6 separate regions of the Homo sapiens genome follow, and all the other regions are linked to region 2. The links come from fine-mapping of genetic effects on gene expression. A gene starts in region 2. Each other region holds a variant in brackets. All regions are shown on one strand. Distances are from middle to middle. Region 1 overlaps CCDC88C (coiled-coil domain containing 88C). Region 2 holds the start of CCDC88C (coiled-coil domain containing 88C). Region 3 overlaps CCDC88C (coiled-coil domain containing 88C). Region 4 overlaps CCDC88C (coiled-coil domain containing 88C). Region 5 overlaps CCDC88C (coiled-coil domain containing 88C). Region 6 overlaps PPP4R3A (protein phosphatase 4 regulatory subunit 3A).

What was found.
Region 1: its variant is fine-mapped to the expression of CCDC88C in esophagus muscle (GTEx, PIP 0.95).
Region 3: its variant is fine-mapped to the expression of CCDC88C in whole blood (TOPMed, PIP above 0.99).
Region 4: its variant is fine-mapped to the expression of CCDC88C in whole blood (TOPMed, PIP above 0.99). The same link has a PIP of 0.9 or more in atrial appendage, subcutaneous fat, thyroid, tibial artery, tibial nerve and visceral fat.
Region 5: its variant is fine-mapped to the expression of CCDC88C in whole blood (TOPMed, PIP above 0.99).
Region 6: its variant is fine-mapped to the expression of CCDC88C in unexposed skin (GTEx, PIP 0.97). The same link has a PIP of 0.9 or more in whole blood.

Annotation. Positions count from the first base shown.
Region 1 is chr14:91,390,921-91,395,009 of GRCh38, reverse strand. All of the region lies in intron 3 of CCDC88C (coiled-coil domain containing 88C), which reads left to right. All of the region lies in intron 1 of LOC105370624 (a long non-coding RNA gene), which reads left to right. Among named protein-coding and RNA genes, the nearest start is that of CCDC88C, 25 kb to the left of the region's middle. The variant C/T (reference allele first, on the strand shown) is at 2,091.
Region 2 is chr14:91,416,274-91,420,273 of GRCh38, reverse strand. It overlaps CCDC88C (coiled-coil domain containing 88C), which reads left to right and starts at 2,454. Exons shown (of 30, transcript NM_001080414.4): 1 at 2,454-2,643; 2 at 3,436-3,536. The coding sequence starts at 2,584. CCDC88C-DT (CCDC88C divergent transcript) reads right to left here and starts at 2,028. Exons shown (of 3, transcript NR_184261.1): 1 at 1,934-2,028. It also overlaps the pseudogene LOC112268126. RefSeq lists enhancers at 1,039-1,088, 1,329-1,973, 3,579-3,868, 3,879-4,000 and a silencer at 2,039-2,958.
Region 3 is chr14:91,371,359-91,376,326 of GRCh38, reverse strand. All of the region lies in intron 3 of CCDC88C (coiled-coil domain containing 88C), which reads left to right. It overlaps LOC107984673 (a long non-coding RNA gene), which reads right to left. Exons shown (of 2, transcript XR_001750858.2): 2 at 2,076-3,691. Among named protein-coding and RNA genes, the nearest start is that of CCDC88C, 44 kb to the left of the region's middle. RefSeq lists enhancers at 154-826, 2,289-2,358, 3,962-4,574. The variant A/G (reference allele first, on the strand shown) is at 2,654.
Region 4 is chr14:91,321,605-91,326,572 of GRCh38, reverse strand. CCDC88C (coiled-coil domain containing 88C) reads left to right here. Exons shown (of 30, transcript NM_001080414.4): 11 at 517-663; 12 at 1,650-1,794. Among named protein-coding and RNA genes, the nearest start is that of GPR68, 79 kb to the right of the region's middle. The variant C/G (reference allele first, on the strand shown) is at 2,457.
Region 5 is chr14:91,353,729-91,358,696 of GRCh38, reverse strand. The region is part of intron 4 of CCDC88C (coiled-coil domain containing 88C); the gene reads left to right. Among named protein-coding and RNA genes, the nearest start is that of CCDC88C, 62 kb to the left of the region's middle. RefSeq lists an enhancer at 3,289-3,799. The variant G/A (reference allele first, on the strand shown) is at 2,627.
Region 6 is chr14:91,471,034-91,475,844 of GRCh38, reverse strand. PPP4R3A (protein phosphatase 4 regulatory subunit 3A) reads left to right here. Exons shown (of 15, transcript NM_001366432.2): 7 at 1-34; 8 at 2,475-2,606; 9 at 2,710-2,812. Among named protein-coding and RNA genes, the nearest start is that of PPP4R3A, 37 kb to the left of the region's middle. The variant G/T (reference allele first, on the strand shown) is at 2,281.

The DNA of each region.
Region 1 (4,089 bases), 25 kb after region 2:
CAAAGGCCTTGTACTCAGGGGACACGTGGGTGGGAGGGGAGGATGCCCACCCGTCTGGCAGAGGGGTGGCAGGCAGGCCCCCCACCCAAGGCCCGTCCCCTGGCCACTCTGTGTTCATTTGTTACTGAGCGGATTATCCAAGGACCCCTCCCGGAGTAATGCGCTCTGATTCATTTGGATTAATCTTGCGAGTGTGCACGTGTGCCTGTCTCTAGCCCTGCACGTTTTTCTCCTGTATGATCGTTTTATTTTAAGCTGAGTGACTTACACATATTATCTCATCAAAGGAAGCCTCATGATTTTATCCCTCACCAGCAATAGAATTCCTTAAAAGCAGGCACTGAATCTTTCTGTTTGTCTGTCACACCAGCATGGAAATGTGTCTGCCGTCAGTCAGCATGTGTTAATGACAAGATACATAACAACGGAGGCCACCATTCAGTGGAGTAAATAATTCAGAGAATAAGTCATTACAATCAGGGAGCACGGTGTCACACCAGGCCTGGGCCGGGAATCCTGTCTCTAGGTTAAAATGACCCTGCAAAGTGCCCCCGACCTGCTGCCCTTTCTAGACTGTTGAATAATTAGAGGATGGGGCCTGCCTTGTTCCTCTGTGTCCCTGACACATGGCAGGGACCCAGACCCTGACTGTTTAGAGGGTAAACAGGGGTAAACCGGTATGGAGGTGCAATGCAGTGAGGGGGCTGGGCTGGAGCTTAGGGCTCCCCTACTGTTTTCACGCAGACCTGTAGGCTTTTCATGTGGTGTTTGCTTTGTTGATGGAAATGCCATATGTCAGGTACTGGGAGGCTCAGTCCCTGGGGGGTGGAAATTAAATTGATTGTTTTCAACTTTGTCTAGCCAGCTTGGCTCCCCTGAGCATTCTAAGGTTTAGGCTGAATGACTTTAAAATTTTAAGACTAAAATTTTTGCCTCCTTTCCAAACCTTAGTAACCAGACAGGCTCACCTTCTGCCCAGCAAGTCAGATTTACGTGCCTTTAAAGTGTGGAATTGTGGCTACTTAAAGGACAGAAACTCCGGAGCAGCTGGCACTTTTTGTGCTCAATTGGTCTTCTAGCACCCTGTTTTTAGGGTGAGAATTTGTGGCATTCAGATTTTACGGAGTAGAGCTCATGAAGTTGATTTCTTTTTTTTGAGACGGAGTCTCGCTCTGTCGCCCAGGCTGGAGTGCAGTGGTGCGATCTCGGCTCACTGCAACCTCTGTCTCCCAGGTTCAAGCAATTCTCCTGCCTCAGCCTCCTGAGTAACTGGGATTACAGGCATGGGCCACCATGCCCGGCTAATTTGGTATTTTTTAGTAGAGATGGGGTTTCACCATGTTGGACAGGCTGGGAAGTTGAATATTTCAGGTGGAAATGGACTAAGTTGCAGAGGCGAGTATCCCAAGCTTAGATGCCAGAAGAAGGAAGCGTTGGTGGTTTCTGAGAACTCTGGGCTATTTTGATAACCACCTGGGGCAGTTAATCCAAAACAGGTAGTCCAGACCTTCAGAGGAAGCCAGATCGGGGCTGAGGTGTGGGCCGTCTGGGAGGGCGCTTCTGTCTGTACCCCTTCTCCTACCTTGCCCTTGTTTCTTCCTTCGGGAGGTAGAATTCGCTCAGGTTGCCTCTGCCTCATCTGCCCCTCTGCCTGCAGGGCTGGGGGTTTAGGGGGTGGGGGGGCTCCCATCCTACTTGCGGACAGAATAGCTGGCACCTGGACCTGTCATCTCCCAGCTCAGCCTCTCCCGGGGCAGCTCCTCTTGTCCTCCAGGGCTGCCCTGACACTGGTGTGACCTGGGGCAAGCGGCCCAACCCCTCCTAGCCTGTTCCTCTTTTGTCAGATGGGGGTGATGACTGCACTCCCCTCCCTGGGTTGCAGTGATTCTGAGAGAGCCAGTGAGCGATTGGTGCCTGGGAAATGCCCAGCCCAGTGCCCAGGGGCCGTTTCCGGGAGCGGACTCCGGTACTGTCTCTCCCTCTCCCGCTGCCTCACACGTCCTGTCCTTGCAGTTTCTCCTTCCCCAGCACCTTTCCTTTTTCGCTATGTGAGGCCTTGAGGACTCTCTGGAATTTAACATCATTATCGC[C/T]GTCATCACACCCCTGGCCCTGACTTGTTTTCTCTGTGTCCCACCCTACATTGCAGACTCACTCAGGGCGGGGACTCCGGCAGCCTCTGCCTCTCCCAGGAAGTGCAGTGAGGGGGCTCAGTGAGAGTGAGGGGTGCAGTGAGAGTGAGGGGCGCGGTGAGAGTGAGGGGCGTGGTGAGAGTGAGGGGGCTCAGTGAGGGGTTGCAGTGAGGGGCCGCCCTTGCTGGGGTCCCTGGTGCTGCCTTCAAGAACTCCAAAGGGCCAGGTCCTCGGGCTGGGCTGGGCTTTAAAATGTTCCTTCTTTTATGCATCGCTGGTATGGAAACCCTGGGTTATTATCGGCTCTGGGTTTAAAAGATGAGGTAAATTGATTTCTAAAGGCAAAGCCACTTTGACAAGCCTTTTGATCTCATTCCTTTTGAACAGAAAGGAATTGGAAATGTGACCAGCTGAAGCCTCTCTCGTTTCTCTTTCCCCTTGAAAAGGTTCTCCTCCTCTAGCCCTAATTAAGGTGTCCTTCCCTGCTCTGGGTGGTTGAAGCCAGCCCCTCGGAGCTCCATGTCCACCGACTCCCACCTCTAGGTTTCCTGGATAGGGATTTTTGTTGTTGCTTTTGTTTTGTTTTGGCAGGGTTGGGGGTGGCATGTAGGAAAGGGTGATCTGAAGCCAGAGTTTATAGAGCATGTTAAGTTCTGGGTCTGTTTGAACTCCTCCTAGGTACAGGTTCAGGAAGGGAGAGCTGGAACCTCTGGAGGTGGCCGTGTTCGTGGGAACAGGGTCAGTGGGAGCAGCTGTCATGGTGGCCATGGGAGCTGCTACCCTGGAGGCCCCAGAGGCACTAGAGAGTCAGGAACAGCCAAATGGAGCCAGGGAGTGAACTCATGAGGCAACTTTGAGATCCAAGTGTATGTTCAGATTTAGTTGGAAAGAGTTTAGAAAGTAGCTGGATTGCGTCACTGCACTCCAGCCTGGGCGACAGAGCAAGACTCCGTCTCCAAAAAAAAAGAAAGTAGCTGGAAAGCGGACTTTCAGCTCCAGAGTAGAGTAAAAATTTTAAAAACAAGAAAAAGGAATATAGTACACTCAGGAACATGTAACTTCTGGTCTTTTAGGAAGCTGCCTCTTTTTTCTTTTTCTTTTTGAGACGGAGTCTTGCTCTGTCACCCAGGCTGGAGTACAGTGGCATGATCTCAGCTCACTGCAGCCTCAGCCCCCTGGGATCAAGCGATTCTCCTGCCTCAGCCTCCCGAGTAGCTGGGATTACAGGCACACGCCACCACGCCTGGATAATTTTTGTATTTTTGGTAGAGACGGGGTTTCACCATGTTGGCCAGGCTGGTCTCAAACTCCTGACCTCGAGTGATCTGCCCGCCTCGGCCTCCCAAAGTGCTGGGATTACAGGTGTGAGTCACTGTGCCCGGCCTACTTCTGACTTTTAAAAAGCAAGAAACACAGAGAGTTATTTGTGTAAGGGGTACAGAATTTCAGTTCTGCAAGATGAAAAGAGTTCTAGAAATGGATGGTGGGGATGGTTGCACAACAGCATAAATGTATTTAATGCCACTGAACTGTACACTTAAAACTTAACCATTTTAAGCTTTTTTTTAGGTTATGCATATTTTACCACAATTAAAAACGGGCACCCAGTGGGTTTTTTTTTTTGTTTTGTTTTGTTTTTAGCAGGAAGAGAGTTTGTACTGTGAGGATGATGGTAAACTAAAAGAACTGTGTTCTGCATTCCCTGGGTCCAGCATGAGGCTCAACACACAGGTGCCAGTGAATGGGCAAGCTTCTCAGGCTTCTAGAACATTCTGGTGTGTGGCTGCCATTGTGTTAAGCGCTTGGTGTTGAAGGCAGTGGGTGTTAGGACTGCTGCTAAGAATCCTTACTTCCTTCCCATTTCAGTCTTCACCTTCACTAGGTGGCATTTATTCTCATCTCAAAGATGAGGAGACAGAAGTTCAGAGAAACCAAGGACCCTGGGAACCTTGTCCCAGAG
Region 2 (4,000 bases):
ACTAACTTACATTATGAGCAATTAAGGAACTTTTTTAAATAAAAGATTTTTAGCCGGGCGCGGTGGCTCACGCCTGTAATCCCAGCACTTTGGGAGGCCGAGGCAGGCGGATCACGAGGTCAGGAGATAGAGACCATCCTGGCTAACACGGTGAAACCCCGTCTCTAGTAAAAAATACAAAAAATTAGCCGGGCGTGGTGGTGGGCGCCTGCAGTCCCAACTACTCTGGAGGCTGAGGCAGGAGAATGGCGCGAACCCGGGAGGCGGAGTTGCAGTGAGCAGAGAGCACGCCACTGCACTCCAGCCTGGGCAACAGAGTGAGACTCTGTTGTCTCAAAAAAAAAAAAAAAAAAAAAAAAGAGAAAAGAAAAAAAGATTTTTATTTCAGATAAAATTAATATTTCCATAATTAGGATACACACATAATTAGCAAACACACATTCTTGAGTCCATTATTTAAGGTTTATTCTATAAACGACTTCCATGAGTATTAGAGATCCTGAATGTCATCTGAATATTTGTCTACACACTTGTGGGCAGCTTCTGTAGACTTTTCTTTGTAGAAATTCCAGTTTTTCTGAATTCTTCCTTTTCCTTCAGGTTTTCCACTTTGCATTATTCATAAAAGGCTGGGTCATTATAGTGAGCTGTTAAGACATTCTTTCAATGCAGAATTTTCTTTCCAGCATTTTACTACCATAAGGATTCCAGAGTTCTTGCAACATTTGGTAAAATCTTGAACTTGTCAGAAGACCTCTCTCTGGCCTTTTCTCTCATTATTTTAGGGATCAAAACATCTTTTTCGACACGTCTGAGCTGCTGCTCCAAAAACCTGTAGTGTCTTCCCATTGTTTTTGGTATAAAAATCAAACTCCTTGAAATGGTTTACAGGACATTTCATGATTCACAACTGAAACTCCTCCACAGCGATGGCACACACTCCTCTTTGATCTCAATTCTTCTTTCTTGTGGTCTTTGCTTAAACCACTGTTCTTTAAATTTCACAGAGCAACCATCAGAGTTGTTAAATTAATCCGCGGGGTCGAGTGCCATCGCGGCGGGCGGAGAAGCAATTAAGGAACTTCTCTAATGAACTTCTGGTGCACAACAAAACCATGTAGTCTCGAAATTTTAGTTCCTCCGCAGTCCCCCATTGTGTTTTATGCTACCCCGCCTTCCACAGTCTCTAGGGACCCCTAACCGACCCCCTTGGCTCTCAGGCCATAATCTCACAACCCTCCCCAGCCCAACGGGGTCCGCCAGCGCTGGGCTGTAATACCACTCGCCACCAGCAGATGCCGCAGCCCCAACGCTGCACAGAGCCAACTTTCAAAATTACCACCGAGCCTGTCGGCAGCCATTTAGTGCCTGCTGTATACTTGCCAAGCGCCACGCAGGGCCCTTCGGGTCAACCCTGTACCAGTTGGCCCAGCTGCGAAATGCGGCGATCGTTAGGGTTAAATTAGTAAAATGGTCTACAGTGCTTTGAACAATGACCGGCTGGTGGTGTGAAATTATTACCAGGCCGAGACCAGCCTGGAGCCGGCTCCTGCCTCGTGCCGTCCCGCAAGGAGGTCCTGCCCCCGGGCTTGCCTTCCAGCCAGTTGGGGCCTTTGCCCTTTTTCCTGTCGCCTGCCACTAAGCTGCTGCTAGGAACCCCGGCTGGAATTTAGCTCGCCTCCGGCAAAGTGGTGGGGGCGGGCCCGGGTCGGGGAGGCCACATCACCTGCTTCCTGCAGGAACTTTTAGAAGGCAGGCAGCCCGGAACATGGCACGGTGGGGCACGGTAGGGCGCGAGGGGCCGCGCCCCTAAGGCCTAAACTCAACATAAAGTTTCTTCTTTGCCCTCCAGCCCAGCCCCAGGGTCGGGGCGCGTTTATCGCGCCGCGCACAAGCGTGAGGAGCGGGGGTTTGCGGGGCCTCTTGACTGTACCTGGGGCTGCACCTGCCAGGAGTGCGGAAAGGCGCAGGGCCGAGGTCCCCAAGCCCAGAGCGGGCGGCAGCTGCGGGCGACCTCGGAGGGCAGAGCAACCTCGGAGGGCAGGGCGTCCCCGCTCCCGGCACGCACCAGTGCCCGCGCACCCCAGCTCGCACGTGGCGCTCGGGCCCCGGCTGCACGCGCACGCGCGCAGGGATGCGCCACGTGCTGGGGCCCCACACGCGGGGAGGCTGCGCTCGGCGAGGGCGCGCGGTCCCACGGGCGGGGAGCCGGGCCCCGCGACCCACCCGCCTCGGGCCACCAGTCCCCTCCCAGCGCCCCGCGTAGCCTGGTCCCGCGCCCGGGCTCCCGGGCTCCCGGGCTGGCACCGCGAGGCGGCGCGCCGGTCGCCCAGGGCCGCCGAGGGGCGGGGCCGCCCGTATTGTTCCTCCCCGAGCGGCTGGCCCTCCCCTTCCCCCAGACCCGGGCGGGGCGCGGGGCCGCCGAAGCCGCGGAACGTGGGCTCGCGCGCCCCGCCTTTGTCTCCCGGGCGCGAGCCGCCGCAGCCCCGCGCCCGCTGCTCGCTGCGGAGCCGTTTTGTGCCGCGGCGCGGGGGAACGGGGACGCGGGGCGGGGGGCGCGGAGCCGGCGGGCGCAGCCTCAGCATGGACGTGACAGTCTCGGAGCTCCTGGAGCTCTTCCTGCAGAGCCCGCTGGTGACCTGGGTGAGTGCGCCTGGCTCCCCGCCCCTTTGTTGGTGCACCGGCTTCTCTCTAGCCCGGCGACGGGACGCCGCAGACCCGACACGGCCGGGGCCCCGGGTGGCTCCGGGGCGCGAGGGACGCAGCAAGTGGCTCCCGGCCGGGGTTGGGGCCGCGTCCTGGAGTCCGGAGCTTTGTAACTCTGGAGCCGGCGCCCCCGTTGTGCGTCCGGCGCGGGACCCCGCCGCGCTTTCGGCCGGGCCAGGAGCCGGGCGGGTACACCTGTTCCCGCTGGGGCTCTAGGCTGGCTGCCTCGGGGCGGACCGGGTCCCAGTGGTCACTCCTGTCCCTGGGGTTTAGCCACTCCCGAAAAGGACCCCATTCTTCCCAACCAAATATCTCATGTAGTTTTTCTGAATCCCTGAGACCAGCCGGTGGATGGCGGTGACGGGTGGGGAATGGGGGGCGCCGAATGGGAAAGCGAACAGACTGGGGTGGGCGCACTGATTTACAATGGATTTGAGACGTGAGACATTTATTGAAAAGTCCTTTTTATTTTTATTTCTTCCGCTCTGGAACGCGGGAGAAAAGTGGCGAGGAAGTTTTTCCTCCTGTCTCGTGTCTGTTGCCCCGCGCGGGGAGGGGAGACAGGCCCTAGGAGAAGGCCGGGCTTGGTGCCTGCTGAAGGGTGGTGTGGGCGTGGGTGACCCCCTTCTGCTCACACTGACCCGTCCAGTCTCTGCCTGGGAGAGCTTTGGACCGTTTGTGCGCACGGGGTGACTTCCTGTCTTTCTCTCCTCGTCCCCCTCCCCGCAGGTGAAAACTTTTGGCCCGTTTGGAAGCGGCAGCCAGGACAACCTGACTATGTACATGGATTTAGTGGACGGCATCTTTTTGAACCAAATTATGCTGCAAATGTAAGTTACCTTCTTCTCGGAGGAAGGAAAGAATGGTGCGTTAGAAAGTTTGAGAGTAGAAATGGAGTGGAAGGTTGCATGGCGGGGTGTGTGTGGGGTGGGGGGTAGTTCTCTGAAGGTGGAGACGCTGGTATCTCAGTATTAACGTGCCTGTTGGACATTCGTAGGTGTTTGAAGAACTCCAGGACAGTGGGTCTGGCAGTTGGTTTGATGAAGGAAATTTGGAATTGAATGACTGTCATTTACGTGGTGTAGATAGTGCAATTGACTTCAGACTCAAGGACTTAATTGTGGTTTGAGCAATGAAATGAAAAAGTCCCCTTTTGGAGGGCAAGGAACTGTAACGGAGAGTGTCTGGTTACAGGAAGTGTCGGGGTGGGCCCAGGCATCCGAGGGTTACTGTAAAGTTTCATTTTAGATGAGGGTGTCTGTGTTTCTGAGCTCCTTTACATTTCATCTTCCTT
Region 3 (4,968 bases), 44 kb after region 2:
ATGAGTGTGCAAAGCGCAGAAGATGGCGACCAAGGTCAGGGAGCAGGAGCAGACAGCGCCCCCACCACCAGCCAGACATGCATATGCCCGGCGACGAGCACCTGGGTGTTTCAGGAGGCTCTGAGCTCACAGGAGAGAAGCCTGACCTATGATCGTCACCCTGTCCTGGGGGGCAGCAGCGGGAGTGACAAGTGTGGCCTTTCCTGGCTGCCACAGCCTAAAGGGTCCTCTGCGCCTGCCAGCTCCTCAGGTCTCCTCCGCAGATACATTTGGGCTGCTGGCTGTTGGCTGACTGGGTTCAAGCCTCTTCTCCTGTGAACTCGCGGGGCTGGAAGGTCTACGTTTCCAGCCCCAGCCTCGCCACTTGTAGTCATGTGACCCCAGGGCACATCCTTACTGTCTGTATCTCAGTTTATTCCTCTGTAAAATGGGCACAGTTACGGCACCTGCCCCATTGAACGCAAGAAGATGCATGCCTGCTGGAAAGGGTCAGATCAGAAGGAGACATTTGCCCCCCACTCGCCCTGAGGAGCCTCGCACAGGGAAGGTGCTCCGGGCACGGACAGGGTTGAGTCTCCCCTCATCTCGTGGCTTGGGCTGGAAGAGTCCACTTGCTGCCGAGGCAGGGCTGGCACAGACTGCCATCCTGCTTGGCTTGGCCATGGGAACAGCTGGTGAGGGTGCTTTTATTTGCCTGAAGTGTGGGCTCTCGGCCGGCCCTGCGGGGAAGCCAGAGCAGCTGGTCTGCCTCGTGAGCAGGTGCCGGGGCGGGTCTGTGCGCCTGCCCTTCCCTCCTTCCCCGAAAACGCTCTTTGATTCCGCTGCCCACCCCCCTCTTCCCCACCTCACCCACATCTGAAGAAAAGCTTCCCTACTTAAAGGAAAAAAGGAAGAATAAGCTTCATCTGATTTGATTTTTTTTGGAGTCCTCAGGTCGGAGCCTCACACAGCAGGGGTCCAGTTGGTCTAATTGAAGGGCATTGTTTCTGTCCCAGTCCTTTAGATTCAGGCTGTTCACACAGCCTGTCTCTCTCTCTCCCACATGCGCGCGCGCACACACACACACAGACACGCGCGCATGCTAACCCTGGGGCCTGTGGCCCTTCATTAGCTCATTTGGCAAATGATGGCTGAGCCCTGCTGTGTGCCAGGCCCTGGGAGAGCCCTGGGGAGCGAGACCGCCCAGATCACCACCCTCAGGAGCCCACAGCCCAAGAAGGAGACTCGAAGAGTAAGGCTGGTTTAGCAGAGGAAACTCAGTCTGTAGCTTCGTAACTAGTGAAGAGAGTTCCTGGTGTTTTGCCCACATCCCCTCGGCATGTTGTATACCACATACGTGTTACAGTGCCTGTCCCATTGGGCTCCGTAAGGGAGTGTCACCACATCTTCATTCCTGGCTCTGACAGGCACCATTGACCGATCTTGGCCCTCTTTGTCTCTGAGCCCAGATCTGGCCTCAGAATCCTTCTCAACACAGAACTCTAGGTAACCACTACCAGTCATCTGTGCCTGGAACCCAAGCTTAAACTACCCCTGGGATCACAGTGAGTTACTTGTGTGAGACTTCCTTGTGCCTCCTGAGGCTTCGGAATGAGCCTGACTGCAGAGACCACTGCAGATGCTGCCAGACTGTTGGAATGGCCTCAAAGGTCGGTTGGGCCACCCCAGGCTCTGTGCTCAGCAGGACTGCACGGCCTGTTCTGGCTGTAACCCCTTGCCCCTGGCTGTTCCCTCTGCCTGGGATTCTCCAGTTCCACCCGTCCACCTGGCTCACACCCTCCCTACACTCGCATTTTGTTCAGCTGACGATTCATCGAGGGCCCTCTTTGACCACCTGTCTGTAAGAGCTATGTTTTCTGTCACTTCCTCCTATGTTCCTTTATTTTGCTTCTTAACACACACATGTGACATATATTTACCTCTTTAGCCCTCTCATTTACTCCAATATTCCAAGCAATGAAAAATACCTATTGATCAAATGGACCTTGCATTAGCAGATACCTGGTGGACTTAACCCTGCTACTGCCTGCAAGAGTTAGGATGAGAGGTAATAGACACAGTGTGTCTAGCCAAGCTCCTGGTTTATGCAGCATGCTGATTTATTGCTGTTCGAAATAAAGTGTTCTTTACACTGTAGATGGGGGAGGGTGCGTTTAGTTGGAGGTCCCAAAAAGCCTCTGTTCTCACCAGAGCCTTCCTCCCCGCAGCCAGTTCCATTTAGCCAGCAGCTGGCAGGCATCTGCTGTGGGCCACACTGTGCAGAGCCCTGGGGGGATTCAGAGGTGAGCATGTTCCAGCATCTGCCCTGGGGACCCTGAGGATCTCAGTTCCCTGTGTGGGACTCAGGCAGGGACACGAGAGAGGGGCCTGGGGGCACTGATTGCTGAGGAAGTGATCATTGCCGGCGGAGGGGTTTGAGGAAGGCATTGGAGGCAAGTGTGGCTGGACAGAGAGGATTTTGTCAGGTGCGGGTGGGCAGGGGACCGGCTGGGCTGCCAGGTCACCTCCAACCCCTGCCCACCCCCCAACTTGGACAGCTGCTGCAAAGTTGATAACATCTTTTGAGATTTTCACTTCCTGCCGAGATATTAGTCATTAGAAACTTGTCACTTCTGAACCTTCCTCCTCCCCGGCTTTTCAACTGTGTCCCGAT[A/G]TGCCCTCCCCCAGTTTCCTGCTATAGAATACATTCTTGGTGATAGAATAGAGAGTTTCTTGCTCTCTAGATGAAGTCTGATCTTTTGCTGCAAACTCCTGTAATGAAAAGAGACCAGTTTGCATGAAATGTCTGCTCTGCTGTCTGTTTCCTCCAGAAAGCTTTTTTGGAGGAGCGAGTGGGGGCTAAGGAGGGGTAATTACAGTCTTATTTATCCATGCTGGAGACTCATGGTTCCCATGTGTGTAGAATTTTTCCTTCTCTTCATCCTTTGCTATTTGACCAGCACAAGTTCTGCTTGGCCCCAGGCAGATGTCACTGATGAACCGTGGCACACTTGCTCCCAGGGCCAGACCTGCCCCTAGTGTTCTCAGCATAGCGTCCAAGCCAGCTCTCTTGAGTCCAGACCACCATAGGGCACTGGTATCGTGTGTGTTTTTCTTGGCCCTCCTGAGGCCAGAGGGAGAAGAGAGAAGGTGGCCCCAGCAGATGTCCCAGCTCAGTTCTTCCTCCTTGGTCCTGAGCCCAGGGGCTGGGGACGGTTTGTGCATTCCTGGGGATCTCTAGAATGGACCCCACTCCTCGCACACACAGGTAGCTGGGACTGTCTTCCTTTATGGGCTCACTGTGGTGACTGTGGCTTCCTGTGTTTGCCCCCTGCAGAGCTGCCCTGTGTTGAAGCAGGAGGGAGGATGGTGTGTCGCCCCGGAGCATGTTGAGAGCACAGTGCCCAGCAAAACCTGACGGCTAGGAAAGGCCTCAGGTTCAGCCAGCACCTCCGGGGGCCTGACTTCATGCCAGGCACAGGCTTGATTGTCGCTAGGTTAAGTGATGCCTGCCTGCCCGGCCACCTGCCTTTCTGGCCACCTGGCAGGGCTTGATGCCGAGGCCCAGCAGCAACGTGGTGGTGGAGCCGGCAGAGGGGACTCCAAAGCTGCTGCTGTCACCGTTTAGATAACGTGCAGACAGGGCTGGGTCCAGACTCCCTGAACGGTGGTTCTGTGCACATCTGGTTCTCAGTTGTCCTTCATCGTGGGACTGTAGCCAGAGACACAAGATGGGGGCACCTTCTGTGTCTTCCTTTTCCTTTATTCCTAGCCCTCCCTGCACTAACACACGCCTCCCCCCCCCGCCCGCCCCCCCCCGCACCACTGCCATCTACCTGGATGTCACCTGCTCCTTGTTCTTTCCCATTTCAGCTTCCGGCCACCTCCTTCTTGGAGCTTTTCTGGATTCCCCGCTCTCCTCTGCTCCCAGTGCCCCCAGCTCAGGTGCCTGCCATCCCTCTGTTAGGGTGCCAGACTTGCTGGTGGGATTTGCTGGTGGGATCAGGCTGTGAGCTCCCCAGGACAGGGCCTGGCCCTATAGCAAACACCCTGGGCCCCTCACTGTCCCCCATCCCACAGGCTTTGTCCTCCTTGTCTTTGTTTCCTGGCTTTGAGGGTAGCAGTCTTGGCTTCATACCCTCCACCTCCCAACTGGCATGCCATCAGACACCCAGCAGGTGCCCGGGAAGTGTGGCATAAATGAGAGAGGGAATGGCTGCCCTTCCTCAAGGAGCTCTCCCTGCCCTCCAGATGCCTGCCCTGGGACACTGGACAAGGAGGCCTGGTCACTCGGGAGTGCTGGTACCCCTTGTGCTGTGGTGCTCGTACCCTGAGGCCTGGGCTCAGGTTGGGGCGTGAGGTTGGGGGCTGGCTGCCCCCACTGCCTGCCTTTCCCACCCTCACAGGTCCCAGCAGGCTGGGGTGGTCTGGGCTGCCATCTACCGCTGGAGGCTCCTAGGTGCCCTCCACCATCCTGCTCCGACTTGTGCCTGGGAGTGAAGCGGCATTGTCAGGCCACCGGGTGAGGGCTGCCAGGGTGTGGCGTGGCCCCAGCCCTGCCCTGGCATAGGTGCCTGTGGGCCTGGGTGGGTGAGCGGTGGAGTGGGACATGGGACACTGTGTGGGCAGGCGCCACGTTCCCCCAGCCCAGCTACTTGCTGGGACGAGGAAGGCCTTGCTTCTGCTGAGCTAGGGAGGGTGTGCCCAGGACAGATAGGTGCCTGCCCAGGAAATCAGCTAGAGCCACCCCTGACTGGAGGGTGTGGGAGGCAGTCTTGGTCCCAGTCTGTGACTCCACAGGCTCCTCGGGACCAAGACTGTGGTCTTGGTCTGTGCTGTACTCCTGCCACCGCCGGCCTCTGTACTCCTGCCACCGGCGGGTGAGGTTGGCTGGGCCTGGACAGCACATGGCTCCTCCCATGGGACCACTACACTCATTCTGGCTGGGGGGGTCATGCCTGTCCCAGCCCACCCTGCATGCATACCGTA
Region 4 (4,968 bases), 94 kb after region 2:
TTTTTTTTCTTATAGCAGAGAAAGTCCATTGTCCTTGCCCGATTAAAAAGGGTGAAGATGGGCTGGGCACAGTGGCTCATGCCCGTAATCCCAGAACTTTAGGAGGCCGAGGCAGGTGGATCACCTGAGGTCAGGAATTCGAGACCAGCCTGGATAACATGATGAAACCTCGTCTCTACTAAAGATACAAAAATTAGCCGGGCGCGATAGCAGGCGCCTGTAATTGCAGCTACTTGGGAGGCTAAGGCAGGAGAATTGCTGAACCTAGGAGGTGGAGGTTGCAGTGAGCTGAGATCGCGCCACTGCACCCCAGCCTGGGCGACAGAGTGACATTCCGTCTCAAAAAAAAGGTGAAGATGATAAAAAAAAAAGTAGAGGAAAAACTTCCTGCCTCGGACTTCCCTCTAGATTGTTTGCTTGGGTCCAGATGCCTGAAAGAGTTTTGGTTTTAGAATTCCATCCTAATGACCCAGGTGCCTTTATCTGATGGTTCTCATGTATGTTTTTGCTAACCAGGAGCTGAGAGAAGATAATATCATTTTAATTGAAACCAAGGCCATGCTGGAGGAACAGCTGACTGCTGCTCGGGCCCGGGGCGATAAAGTCCATGAGCTGGAAAAGGAGAACCTGCAGCTGAAATCCAAGCTTCACGACCTGGAATTGGTACTGCAGGCTGTGTTGTTACTACATTGAAAACAGATTGGGCTCGGGCACAGTGGCTCATGCCTGTAATCCCAGCACTTTGGGAGGCTAAGGTGGGAGGATCCCTTGAGCGCAGGAGTTCTAACCCTGGCAACCTAGCGAGGCCCCATCTCTACGAAAACTAAATAATTGGGCATGGTGGTGTGAGCCTGTAGTTCCATCTACTTGGGAGAGACTGAGGCAGGAGGGTTGCTTGAGCCTGGGAGGTTGAGGCTGCAGTGAGCCGTGATCACACCATTGCATTCCAGCCTGGGTGATAGAGCAAGACCTTGTCTCAGAAAAAAAGAAAGAAAGAAAAGAAAACCGATTGGGGCAGGTTCAGGTTTATGGCGTGCCCTTCTCTGATAGTTTAGCTACTGGGTTTGTTGCTGCTACTGCCGTTGCTGCTGCCACTGCTACCACGAATGACTTGTTGACTGCGGGGAGTAGCTTGCTAAAATCAGCAGGCTTGAGCGGGTGCCACTTAACACCCACAAACAGAGCACTTGACTTCTGTATTGCTTTTCTGTAGGAATGAGTGTGTGTGTGTGTCTTGGAAGAAGGGTCTTTGCCAGTGTTGATGGTGTGGGGTGAGCTGTGATTTGTTAGCCTGTTAACAGCTTTAGAGGCCTGTTAGGGCTTCGCTAGAGCCACAGAGCTGCCCATCACTGCACACTTGCTTTAAAGCCCTGTGCAGTATGTCACTTTGTTCAGACAGCATTCAGTTAGGGACCCCGGCCGGGTCTGTCTTCATAACCTAGGTAGCCAGGTCAGGGTACCTTTGAGTGGCTTTCCCTCTCATAGCAGGGCCCTGTGTTGGGATGTTTCTGTGCAGCTCTGTTTATTTGGAAGTGAGCCAGTACATCTTCATCCACAGCACATGACGGTAGCTATACAGGGGCTGAGGCTTGTCCAGGGGGATCTCCAGCTGTGCAGCCTCACTTCTTGCCTCTTCTTGCTTGCCCCAGGACCGGGACACAGATAAGAAACGAATTGAGGAGCTGCTGGAAGAAAACATGGTCCTTGAGATTGCACAGAAGCAGAGCATGAACGAATCTGCCCACCTTGGCTGGGAGCTGGAGCAGCTGTCCAAGAACGCAGACTTGTCAGACGGTAGGTAGCGCCTGGTGCCGGGGAGCCAGCCTGGCCGTGGCCGCCGCTGCCTCCAGGGAGCTGAGTCCTGGGCTCTGAATCTGCCATGTTAGCCCATCCATTCATCCCAGGCAAACATGATTTCCTTCAAGCTCCACTTGGAACTGTTTCATTACAGTTCTCCCCAGGGAAGACACGAGGGGTCTGGCAGCCTTGATGTCAGGACGCAAAACACAAATTAAGTGTTGCCAGTTTTCCGAATTCCCATATGGACATTCCCGGGAGCTTCCAGATTATAGTGCACTGACACCCAGAGGCTCTCTGAGGCCATCTGTGGATGGCTGAAAGCCCTGGATGGCAGGAGCCATCACCAGTGGCCACGAATCCCTGCTATAAATGTACCCAGGGCGTCATTTCCTCCATTCATTTGCATAATTGGGCAAGATGGAGGCAGCCTGTTTTCTCTCTCCTGGGTGGGGAGGGTGCTGAGTGGCTGCTGCCCCGGAGACCCAGGTTCTTAGCGCCTCTGCCAGGCCTCTCCCTTTCCCTCTTCCCTCCTGGGCTTGCTCTGCTGCCCACTGCCCCGCGCCCCGAGAGGAGGTGTCGGTCATGGGAAGCGTGGGCGGGGCCGCACTCAGCCCCCTGCGCAGGAAGCCTCAGCCCCGGCAAACAATGAGCCAGTT[C/G]CTGTGTTTGAAAATAGCACACGCTCACCGTTCCCGTGCACGTGATCGTGCAAGTTCATAGTTACTTAGACTTTCCAGGGTGTGATGGGGCTTTTGGCTTGTTTAGTGGGTGGCTTTAAAAAATTCTGATAGACATCTAAGCATTCTGGAAAGGTTATTGGAAACAGGTGAATATTTCTTGCATTTGGGGGTTCCTATCAGTTCCGAACCTAAAACCAGTTTCACTGTGAATCTGTGTGAGAAGTTAGCTGTCTGTGCTTTGATATCTGTGCGTAGTTCTGGGGCCTGAGGGCTGCACAAGGGGGTTCCCCCAAATCCCTTGCCTCTGGAAGTCCAAGTTGGGGGCGCCCCCTGGTGGAGCAGAGAGGTGGTACAAGCAGCTAGGATGGTCTCTCATCAACTAAATATTTGTTAGAGACCATGGTGGCTGGTGAGAAGGCCTCACCGATTTAGACCATTTTCTATAATGTGTGAGCTCTTTAAAGTTAATACCGTGATTTATTCTTAGTGTTGTCAACTCCTAGTGCCTAGCTAGGAGCTGGCATCATTCTAGTGTTTGCTAGAATGATGGCATCGTGCAAGCAAAGCCTGAGTGTATGGGGCAGTGGCTTCGAGAGCCAGAAAGACCTGGCATAAAGCCTTGGCTTCTCTGCTGGTTAGCTGGGTGACCTAGGGCAAGTACTTAACCTCTTAAAACTTTAGTTTCCTTACCTGCAAAATAGGGGTAATGAACCTGCCTCACAAGATGACTGTGAGGATGAGTGAGAGAAAACAGTGAAGCAGGAACCCCGGCTCTGGCCCTTGGTGTGTTCTGTAGAGGGCAGCTCTTCTTGTCTGTCTTACTAAGACATACCCAGTTACTCTGGTTGCTGGGGGGTGCTGACGAGATTTGCACTAGTAAAGAAACACTGGGCCGGGCAAAGTGGCTCATGCCTGTATTCCCAGCACTTTGGGAGATTAAGGCGGGCAGATCACTTGAGGTCAGGAGTTCAAGACCAGCCTGGCCAACATGGAGAAACCCCGCCTCTACTAAAAGTACAAAAATTAGTCAGGCGTGGTGGTGCACACCTGTAATCCCAGCTACTCAGGAGGCTGAGGCCGGAGAATCGCTTGAACCTGAGAGGTGGAGGTTGCAGCGAGCCAAGATCACACCACTGCACTCCAGCCTGGGTGAGAGAGTGAGATTCTGTCTCAAAAAAAAAAAAAAAAAAAGAGAAACACTGGCGTTTTAGTAGTAAACCATTGTGTCGTTTTAATAGTCTTCAAGGCACTGACTTTAATGGAAGAGGAAATGAAACATCGATTCCATTGTTTAACTCACAGAACCTTAAAAATTAATCTCTGTGGTCAGTTTGGGAAGGTGAAAAGGGATGGTGGTGATGGTTGCAGAAAAGTGTGCTTGTACCTAATGCCACAGATCCAAACACTTTAAAATGGCTAAAATGGTACTTTTTAAATATATTTTTCTGTAATTTTAAAAATGGGTTCACCCCCATGAATTCTGCAGAGACACTGTCCAGATGACCACAGGTTTTGAAATAATGGAGTCTTATTTGAGGCTTGGTGTTGAAGTTAGGTTAGTTTCATTTACAGCTTATTTGGGATGGAGCCCTCCAAGCGTCCTTGTATGTGGAGTGTGTGTGTGTTTATGTGTGTGTCAGTGCTGGGCTGGGGCCAGGTACACACCATCCCCTCCACTTCTCGCCTGCTGTTGGTTTGGGTCTTTAGGGCGTTCTGGCCTGTTGGGTGGTCCATGTCGTTATCCTTGGTAGAGGATGAAGACTCAGAGGGAAACGAGATGCTGTTCAGTCTTTATGATCACCCGGGGAATCTGAACCACACACATTTCCAGATTTATGTGTTTGCTGTGAAAGCCATCACCCCCCTGTACCCACAGCCCCTGGGGTGAAGAGGTAGGGGGAGGAATCGCTGTATTAGCAACAGTGTGGAAAGGCCCCAAGAGATGAGGACGTGGCACTGGGTTGGGTAAATGAAGGGGGGAAGAACCGGGCTCCTTTCTTAAGAGGGCTTTTGCATACCTTTTTTTTTCCCCTCCCCAAAACAACCCCATGACTTACCTAAAATCATGCACCTGCTTGTGGCAGGAGGGGGCCAGGAACTCCCATTCCTGACTCAAGACTCTTCCCTTCTCCATTTGCACCTGAGCTGTTTAAAAGCAGAGTAGATAGTCTGCCTTTTACTATTTTTAGCTTATTTTTCATCTCATTTAGAATTTTAAAAGTAATTTGCATACACTATCACAGTTTTCTTCAACATAATTGTGAAGTCACAGAAAGAAATCTCTGCATAGCATCTCATCCAGGCTGACAAGTGCCCGACACATGTTCCAGTGTAGCTTTCTACCACCCATGGCCAACGGGAGTGGTCAGTTACGTGCCCCTGCCTGCTGAGCAGCCGAGATGTCCATTATGCTCTGGGGGGTATGGAAAATGTCACCTGTGTGTCATCTCTGTTAGCCTCTAAAATCCTTGATTGGACAGTTAGGATAGCA
Region 5 (4,968 bases), 62 kb after region 2:
ATCTCATCTCTAATTATAAAATGAAAAAAAGAAAGACCAAATTAAATGTCCTCCTGGCATCTTACAGAAAGTCAGAACTTAATCTCTGCCTGTCAGATAACTTCCTTGGTGCATTAAATGGAGTAATGCCTTGCGTCCCTTTCACCTGTGTGTGTTTACCTGCACCCATAGCTGGTGGACAGAAGTCGCAGGCCCCAGGGACAGAGTTACTCGCTGGCTAGGACTTCCCTTGTTCTGATGGAGACCTTGTCATCATTTTGAAACCTTAGGTCTGGGGCCTCCTGGAGTAGGTGAGGGGTCAAGGAACACAGGAAAAGCCACACCTGTAGGATGGTAATAAACCGTGAATCCTAAACATTAGAGACATTTCCAAAAGGGACTCGGGCTTCCTCTGTTGGCGTCTCCTCAGCCTGGTCTCACTGCAGCCTGGCCATCCCCTCTCCTGTCCGTATGACAGTAGCTAGTGGCCTTGAGACTTTAGAAGAGTTCACTGAGTAACCAGCCGAGGACAAAGCTGGTAGGAGAGCAGTCTTCTTTTAGTGCCACCGCCCTGAGAACATCAGCAGCGGCTTCCTTGTTCCGTGGGGGCGCTCTTTCTGGGCTCCAGCTGGCTGAGGTGTCCGCCTTTGCATGAGCCAGAAGGAAGAGCATCCCTGGACCCCTGATAGTCTTCAGTGCTCTGGCCTGTGGGCACTCACCGCCTTACATGGAGACCCTGCAGAGGCCACCCCTGGTCCTCCTGGTGGCCCCCGGCAGCAAGCGCCCTCCCCCACTTCCCGTGTTAGTAGCAGGGGGCCTTTGGTTCTGCTCCCCTGCCAGCTCTGCCATGGGGCCATGTGTGTTCCGGCTTTATTTCATGGCTCCCCCAGAGAAGGGCGGGGACGCCAGATGCAGTCCATGCTGGCCACAGCCCTGGGCTCCAGGGACCGGGGGACTCTCATGATTTCTGGTAACTTCAGGGAAGTGGAGCCTGTTTTGCTGAGCAGAACTCTGCCACCTTCCTAGTTTATTTGGGGCTGGTTACGGGAGGAGATGAGAGTGATGCCTGTAGAGGTTGGCGGTAGCTTAGTCCTGTTGTTCTGTCTGCCCTGGAGACAGTGGAGGAGCAAAAGGAGGGGACAGCCACTCCGTCTGCCCTGGAGACAGTGGAGGAGCAAAAGGAGGGGACAGCCACTCCTTAGCACGCCCACCCTGTGCTTGGCACTGAACGTGCGTTACAAATGCAATGAAAGACCGAGCGTGCTGGCGAGACACTAGTTCTACAAAAAATAAAAAAGTTAGCCGGGCATGGTGACACGCACTCATAGTCCTAGCTACTTTAGGAGGCTGAGGCAGAAGGATTGCTTAAGCCCAGGAGGTCGAGGCTGCAGTAAGCTGTGATTGTGCCACTGCACTCCAGCCTGGACGACAGGCAAGACTCCATCTTTAATTAGTTAATTAAAATTTGTATTTAAAGGAATGAAAACGTGCTTCTGTGGTGTGGCTGCGCCCATTTCCGTTTATAGGGAGAGAACTGAGGCTCCGAGGGCTTGGGTGCCATGTCCTTGACCAGTTGGCCTGTAAGCAGAGGGGCTGATTGGAAACCTGCTCTGTCCGCCCCCAAACCTGAGCCTCTTCATCTGTCACACATGGACATCTATGGGTTAGGTTTAACTGTAGGCAATTGCCAATATCCAGTCTTTTTTGACCTATAAAAATGGCATATGGTTGAACCTAATATTAAACGCATCCTTCTCCCCGCCTTTTCTCACCCCTCCCTTTAGCTCCAATGTTACCTGCATAGCTTGCCCACCTTCCTGCTGGTGCTCCCCCTCTTCTCATCCCTGCAGGTGTCTCCCCTTCCACTACCATCTGGAAGCCTGCCCTCTCTGCCCCACTACCATCAGGCACCTCCCAACACCACAGAGATTGTCCATGGGCAGAGAACATAGGTCCGCATCTCAGGTCTGCTGCCAAACAGAAACATCTGTAAAGATGTGGATGCTGATTTTTTTTTTTAACAGCTTTATTGAGGTATCATTTGCATGCTATAAAACACACCCATTGTAAGTGTATAATTCAGTGATTTTTTTTCATAAATATACAAAGCTGTAAAACCCTAACCACAATTCAGTTTTTAGAATGTTAAGAGGAAGCTGGTTTTAGACTGTTGACAGGTGAATTGAATGTCCCTGGGGCCCCCGTGGTATATAATCAGCCCACATGGATCAGCTGGTCCCAGCTCTGAAGGTGGAGTTGGAGAAACTGGACAGTGAGGGCTGGGAAAGTGAAGGACGGGAATAACTCTACCCATCACCGAGGGCTCAGAGGGCCCCGGGCCTCGCTGACTGACATGCTAGACGGTGGCCTCGGCAGGCTGCACACAGAGGGCAACGTGTCAGGGCTGGGGGACGGGGAGCTGGGTGCACGGATGAGTAGGTTTGACAGGGGTCCCATGGTGCTCTGAGAGCAGAGGAGGCTGGCAGCGGACATCCACCAGCAGGAAGATGCAGACACCAGTGCTAGGGGCAGAGGGATGTATTTATGAAATAGCATTTTCAGTTTTAAATTGTAAAAATAGATGTGTGAAGCTCTTTTCGTTTCTTTTTAAACAAAGAACAAAGTTGGTGTTTTTTTAATTTGTATG[G/A]TTGCCCGGGGTGGGGCATGTGTGTGCTTTTTGACTAAATCTATCCCCGTCGTGTGTGAGGGGCTTGCTTTGTACTCTTTTTGATGGATGCTAACACTGTACTGTTATTTATAACGTTTTATAGTTTGGGGTAACTTTTCTGTTTTGGGCACATAGCATCACAAGCTCCCAGATTCCAGATCCCAACAGAGCATCTGGTCCACCCACTGTTCCCCAACACAATGATACTAAAAGACCCTGAGAGTCTACGCATTTGTCCCCTTTCTCTGACCTAAAAAAGGGAGGTGCCACAACTTACAGTTTTTCTGTATGTCTCACTTAACCCCCCACACCCATCAGACAGAAGGGTGTTCACTCTCTTCCTATCCTGGGTGGAAGTCAAGGACAGTGCAGTAACTATGAAACAGTACTTCGTATACTGAAAATTGCTTTTGAAATCTCTCCTCAGCATCTGCCCGTCCCGGCCCAAACTCCTCACTCCCTTACGCTGTGTCTGCCCTGGGACCGTCTCTGGATTTCTGCTCTGATGGTGCTGTGGTTTTGCAGCTCACTCTCAGCTGCACCCACGCCCCCGGGGAGGGGAGGGTCTGTCTGGTGCCTCACTGCTGTAGTCTCTGCTTCTCCGAGCACGGCCTGGGCTCTGGCTGGACCCTGCTTGAACCCCGCCCTCACTTTTATATGACGGCTCTTATAAGAGCCTGCCCCCATAGTGAGGCGGTGTGCAGGCTTCTGGGGCCTGAGTGCCGTAGAGCGTCCTTCGCCTTGTTTCCCCTCAGCCATCCTTATCCTTCCCTCTTACCCGTGTCTGCGCTGTCGCCTGGTGTCCCGGGTCTACCCTCAGTGCACCCCCAGAAGCCGAGCTCTCCTCTGCAGCCCTCCTCACCACCACCAGCTCCCCTGCTTCCGCCTGGCTGCTCCCCAGGGCAGTGTCCTCACCTCTGCCCCCTGCAGTCTGCTCCCAGCATGGCAGCCCGAGCAGCCCACTCCTCAGGTCAGCCGACTGTCATTTTGCAGCCCGCTCCGGGCACTAGGGCCTGTGCACCTGCCGGTCCCTCTGCCAGCGAGCTGTGTAAACACCTCCTGTGAGCCCCTGTTCAGTGTGGCCCCACCTGTCTCTCCTGCCACACGCCCTGTCTTCTTTGTTCTGCTCTGCTTTCCCTTCTCCATATCTTTTGGCACCTGTGAATAGCCTATACTGTTCACTTATTTTTTCCCCTCTGTGGCATTGCATACTTTTCCCCCGTTAGGGTGCACGCTCTCATGACAGCAGGAATCCTGGGGTTTTTTGTTGTTGTTGTCAGTGCGTTCGAATGCCTAGATCAGTGTCTGGCATGTAGTAGGTGCTCAGTAAATACAGCATCCATGCAGGGGGCCCACCTTTCTCTCTTCCTCTCTCCACTTTGCTCTCCCGTCAAGCTGGGGCCCCTGACAGGTGTTACCCACTTGCTCTCATAGATAAGAAGGCCAGTTGTCAGTGGTCAGGGTCAAGTGAGATTCATTCTCTGCCCAGTACCACGTGTCTGTCTCCCCTAGGCCTGAGATGACTCCCTGAAAACCGCCTTCACCATCTTGCCAGCTGCACAGCTATTAAATATCTTTCGCGGTTACTGGTGAGTGTTTTCTACAAGAAGCCTGTGAGAAGCAAGAGCTCACGTCTGTGCTGTGAGGGAGGATGCTGGATGGAGCTAGACCAGCTCCGGGGTCCCTCCAGCTCTGGCTTCTCAGCATCTTGCTCAGCAGCCAGGCCTGTCACTGTGCCACACGCACAAGAAAAGACTAGATTTGTCTGACGGGAAGCCAGGGTGTTAGCAAATTACTTTCTGCGATGAATCACAGGACAGTTGCACTGGAAGAAAGCATTGTTTTTTCTTCCAGGGTTTGTATCCAAGTATAGTAGTGGTTTCCAGACTTACACATGGCCGATCCCACCGAAGCCATTTAGAATGGAAGGGAACGAGCCATTTAGGTGTAGAAGCCCAGCCCAGAGAGCGGAGGAGCTCATTCAGAGGCACACAGCATGGAGGTCCCCATAGGCGCAAGACAGATTTCACACCATAAATTGCACAGATGGTTACTTTTGTGGACAGTAAGCCACTGGTTCCAAGCAAGAGGGTTACTGTCACTGGTCTGCCCTGATGTTTCTTACATTCTAAATGCCAAGCAGGATTCCTGGAAGCCCTGGAGGGGCTGCGACTGCATATGCACACCCTACAGGGTCCTGTCTGAATGCCCCTGGAACCTTTGAGAAGAGCCTTGGGGTTTCATTAATTGCCGTTCAGCGGCCTGGCCCTCTGTCCTATGTTTTCTCTCTCTTATGATGGTTACAGAGGGTGCGCATTCCA
Region 6 (4,811 bases), 55 kb before region 2:
TAAGAAGTTAACAGAGCAAAAAATAACCAGCAAGGTAAATATTATTTGTACTAATAGTAAGTATTTATACATAGGAAGCTATAACTGTTTTTATTATTCACTTTTAAGATTTAATTGTTGCTGTTTGGGAAAAGTGTAGCCATAATATCAGACAGCTTATTGTTCCCCTAAATTGGTTCCTGTCTCAGTTTATCAATTTGTCCTACAGCAACTATTTATGTTCATTTAAATTGCCTTTTAAAATATTCATGTCAGTTTTTTTTTGTTTTGTTTTGTTTTAATTCTGAAGTCAACTTGCTATATTGTGTTTTTTAAATCATTTAGTCAATCAATTCTTGTATCTGGGGAATTAAGAGTAAGTTACCTAGGAAAACATTGACTTTAGGGTAGATTCTCAAAATCGCCAAGAATGAAGAAATGTAGCACAGTCCCTTAAAATATGAAGGGTGCTGTTTCTTTACTGCCTAGCCATAGAGAACAAGCTGTTACGTTGTTCACAAACACTCACGTTAGCATCTGAGATATACCAGATTTTAAAGTAGTAGAGAATATATCCTGGTAATGTGAAGGGTGCGCCTGGATCACATAGTGCGTGACATGTGAGAGCACTAAATGTGTGTGCTCTCCTTTATTTTAAAATAATTGAACCAATGATTCTGATTTTTTCCTGCTTCCCCCATAACAATTTGGAAGCAACTTTTTACGTAAGAATGAGTAAGAAGGACCTGCTCTCAGGTCCTTCTTAAGGGAGGAGGGGAATAAAGATCCCCTAAGGAAAAAAAAAAAATCTGTTTAGAATTCCAGCCTGTGGTATTTTTACGAAATAGGAAAATAGACTGTCTTACTTTTTGAAAAGATCCTATTTAATGTATTGTGATGTCAAAAGGAAATGGAATGCCATGTAACTGCTATGTTTAAGTTTTTATTTTTATAGTGCAGGATAGGTGCAAAAAAGCACCAGTTTGAACTGTTGTGTCATGTTTTTCTTTTATAAAATATTAACATCGGCCTCAGCAACATAGCAAGACCCTCCTTTAGTACAAAATTAATTTTTAAAACTTAGATATGGTGGCATGCACCCATAGTCCCAGATACTCAGGAGGATGAGAAGGAAGAGTCTCTTAAGACCAGGAGTTTGACTCTGCAGTGAGCTATGATTGCTCCACTGCACTCCAGTCTGGGTGACGAAGCCAGACCCCATCTCAAAAAAAAAAAAAAATTCTTTGAGAACCAAAGTATCTGTATTATTGAAAATAAAGGCTATTGTTGGTCCCATTAACCCATGAGCTGAACATATGAACATGTATTGATATACCTCAAAATACACACAGTAGGACTCTTTTTTTTTCCTGTTTTGCAACAGAATAACATTTCAGTCACTAGGACTCTTGATTCCCACTCTTCTTAATCATCATTTCCATCTACTGTCTGCATTTTCTCTATCCCTTGTCCATCCTGCCTTTGCATACACATAGGCAAGAGCAGGGATTTTCTCACTGAATCCCTCTCAATCTTATTTACTACTTAGGTGAGGAATACCAGTCATAATAGGACCTCAGGAAAACCAGCCATCTCTTTTCTTTGATATTTAGAATGTGTATAATCCATTTGTTCTCTGCACTCTCTAAATACCATAGTCTCATTTTCTCCAATTTCAGACATTCAGATAATTTTTTCCTAAATTTATTTTAAAAGGAAATTTTATATCACTTTTACAAATGGAGAACATACATCACTGGCCATAAATAGAAGGACTCTATAATAATAAAAGCAATAGACCAGGCACGGTGGCTCACGCCTGTAATCCCAGCACTTTGGGAGGCTGAGGCAGGCGGATCACCTGAGGTAGGGAGTTCAAGACTAGCCTGACGATCATGGAGAAACCCCGTCTCTACTAAAAATACAAAATTAGCCGGGCATGGTGGTGCATGCCTGTAATCCCAGCTACTAGGGAGGCTGAGGCAGGAGAATCGCTTGAACCCGGGAGGTGGAGGTTAGTAAGACGAGATCGTGCCATTGCACTCCAGCCTGGGCAACAAGAGGCAAACTCCGTCTCAAAAAAATAAAATAAAAATAAAAGCAACGAAAGTATTATGATGTTCTAAATCCTACCTAAATATTCTTACTCTTAAAGCTATGGTCATAAAACCCACTGGCTTTCTTCAAAAGGTAGATTACATTATTAGAAAGTTGTAAAGATATATTATCACCAAACTAAAACTTTGCTTTTGCTTTATTCAGAGGAATTTAAAGATAATAGACAAGAAATTTCTATTTAGG[G/T]CTATGTCCCTGTACCACACTTTAGGGAATGAAACACTGTCATATGTCCTGTCAGATAACTGAGTTAAACATTTCACTTTGCAGTTAACAAAACAGCTAGAGCCTAGGTATAATGCTGTGGTATGTGTCTTAGTTTTTGCTTTTTCCGTTCTCTCATAATAAGTGATCCTGAGTATGTCTATTTTTCTCTCCAGGATATTTTGCTCATCAACCTCATTATAGAACATATGATTTGTGATACAGATCCTGAACTTGGAGGAGCAGTCCAGCTTATGGGCCTGCTTCGAACTTTAGTTGACCCAGAGAACATGCTAGCCACTGCCAATGTAAGCCATGAGCATTTCCCCTCTTTTTCATAGCTAGTATATTGTGTATTGCTGGTAGGAACCAGTGTGGTTAAAGTTCATGGAATTGTTCTTGTTTCCTTAGAAAACAGAAAAGACTGAATTTCTGGGTTTCTTCTACAAGCACTGTATGCATGTTCTCACTGCTCCTTTACTAGCAAATACAACAGAAGACAAACCTAGTAAAGGTAAGATAATTCAGGTTGGTAGTTAAGTTCTCTGTTCTTGAATGCTGAATTCAAAGTTGGTGTTAAGTCAGTCTTTTTAGGAGGCAGTTAGTGGGAGGTAGAGGCTGGGAGGACACACCTTTTAAAAAGTAGTAGTCTTTAAAAGTTCAAACCATCAGGTTAACATAGAGGTCTTAATAATTTGGTTGGTTGGTTGGTTGGTTGGTTGTTTTTATCAAAAGCAACCTGGAGAATTAATGATGTATTTTGAAAAGAAAGGTTCATGACAAAAATGTCCCTAAAAGGCCTGTAATCCCAGCACTTTGGGAGGCCAAGGCAAGCGGATCATGAGGTCAGGAGATCGAGACCATCCTGGCTAACACGGTGAAACCCCATCTCTACTAAAAAAATACAAAAAAAATTTAGCTGGGCGTGGTGGCAGGTGCCTTGTGGTCCCAGCTACTGGGGAGGCTGAGGCAGGAGAATGGCGTGAACCCAGGAGGCGGAGCTTGCAGTGAGCCGAGGTCGCCCCACTGCACTCCATCCAGCCTGGGCGACAGAGTGAGACTTCAACTCAAAAAAAAAAAAAAAAAAACAATTTTCCTGAAAGTACTGTAATCAGATAACAGAAACATGTAAAAGAAATAAGATAATTTTTTGTTGAACAATATTTGTATTCAGTTTGCATCTACACTGGTGAAATATAAATAGAAGGCAGTAGCTATGAAAAAATTCATTTTAAATTATTTGTACTCCAGATGTATAGACAGAGCTAGGATTTTTGCACAATATTAAGCTACTTTTATTTATATTGAAGATATGTTAAGGTTTGTTATTTTTGTATTATATTCATTAGAGCTTTAGCGTGCGTGTGCGTGTGTTTAATTTAGGAGGTAGTTTTAGGTCTACATTCAAAAATTGCTTATTTAAGCTTTAGGAGTAAATACATTATTTTGTCATTGGAATTTTTTTTTTTTTTTTTTTTTTTGGAGACAGAATCTTGCTCTGTTGCCCAGGCTGGAGTGTGGTGGCGGGATCTCGGCTCACTGCAACCTCTGCCTCCCAGGTTTGAGCAATTCTCCTGCCCCAGCCTTCTGAGTAACTGGGATTACAGGCACCTGCCACCATGCCTGGCTAATTTTTATATTTTTAGTAGAGGCAGGGTTTTCACCATGTTGGCCGGGCTGGTCTCAAACTCCTGGCCTCAAGTGATCTGCCCACCTTGGCCTCCCAAAGTGCTGGGATTATAGGTGTGAGCCACCACGCCCAGCCTTGAATTCTTAATATAGCATAATTATAGCACTCACATAAAACACAAGTTAAATTTACTTTTTGTGTAACTCCAGAATCAAGTCCATGAAATGTGAATGTCCATTTTTCTTACCTGCTTTATTCATATTAGGTAAAGCTTGAGGCTTCTTTCCAAACCACATGTTCTATTCCTCCAACCTTTATTAAGATGAGAACTCATTGTGATTTTGTGAAGGACTGTGTTATAATCTAAACGTGGGGGAATGAAAAAAAGCCTTTCAGAGGCTTGCTGCCTAGTGAGGAGTAAAGATAAGTCAATGATTATAATTCAGTATAGACTCGTTACAAGTAGTAAAGGAGGCACAAAACACACTGGAATCAAGGGAACAGGGAGAGAGAGTAATTGCACCAAAGATGACACGGTGTCTGGCAAAACCTCATATGCTATATCTGTTGGAGAACATGCTAAGGTACCTGGTAGAGGGTCCTTGAATTTTGGAATAAGGCAGATACTCTAGATTTGTATCATAACTCTGCCTTACTAACTTTTCCAACTTGGGTCTAGTTAGTTAATAGGCTCATAATGTGAAACAGTTTCTTATAGGGTTGTTAAAATTAAATAAAAAAAAGTAAAGCACCATTCCTGGCACATGTTAGGCGTTCAGTAAATGCTAATTTCCTCCTCCCTAAAGTTAATATATTTAGGTTAATAGAAGAGATTTTACTTGATTAGAATTTGAGTTCTTACATTTTAGAAGGAAAAATGTTA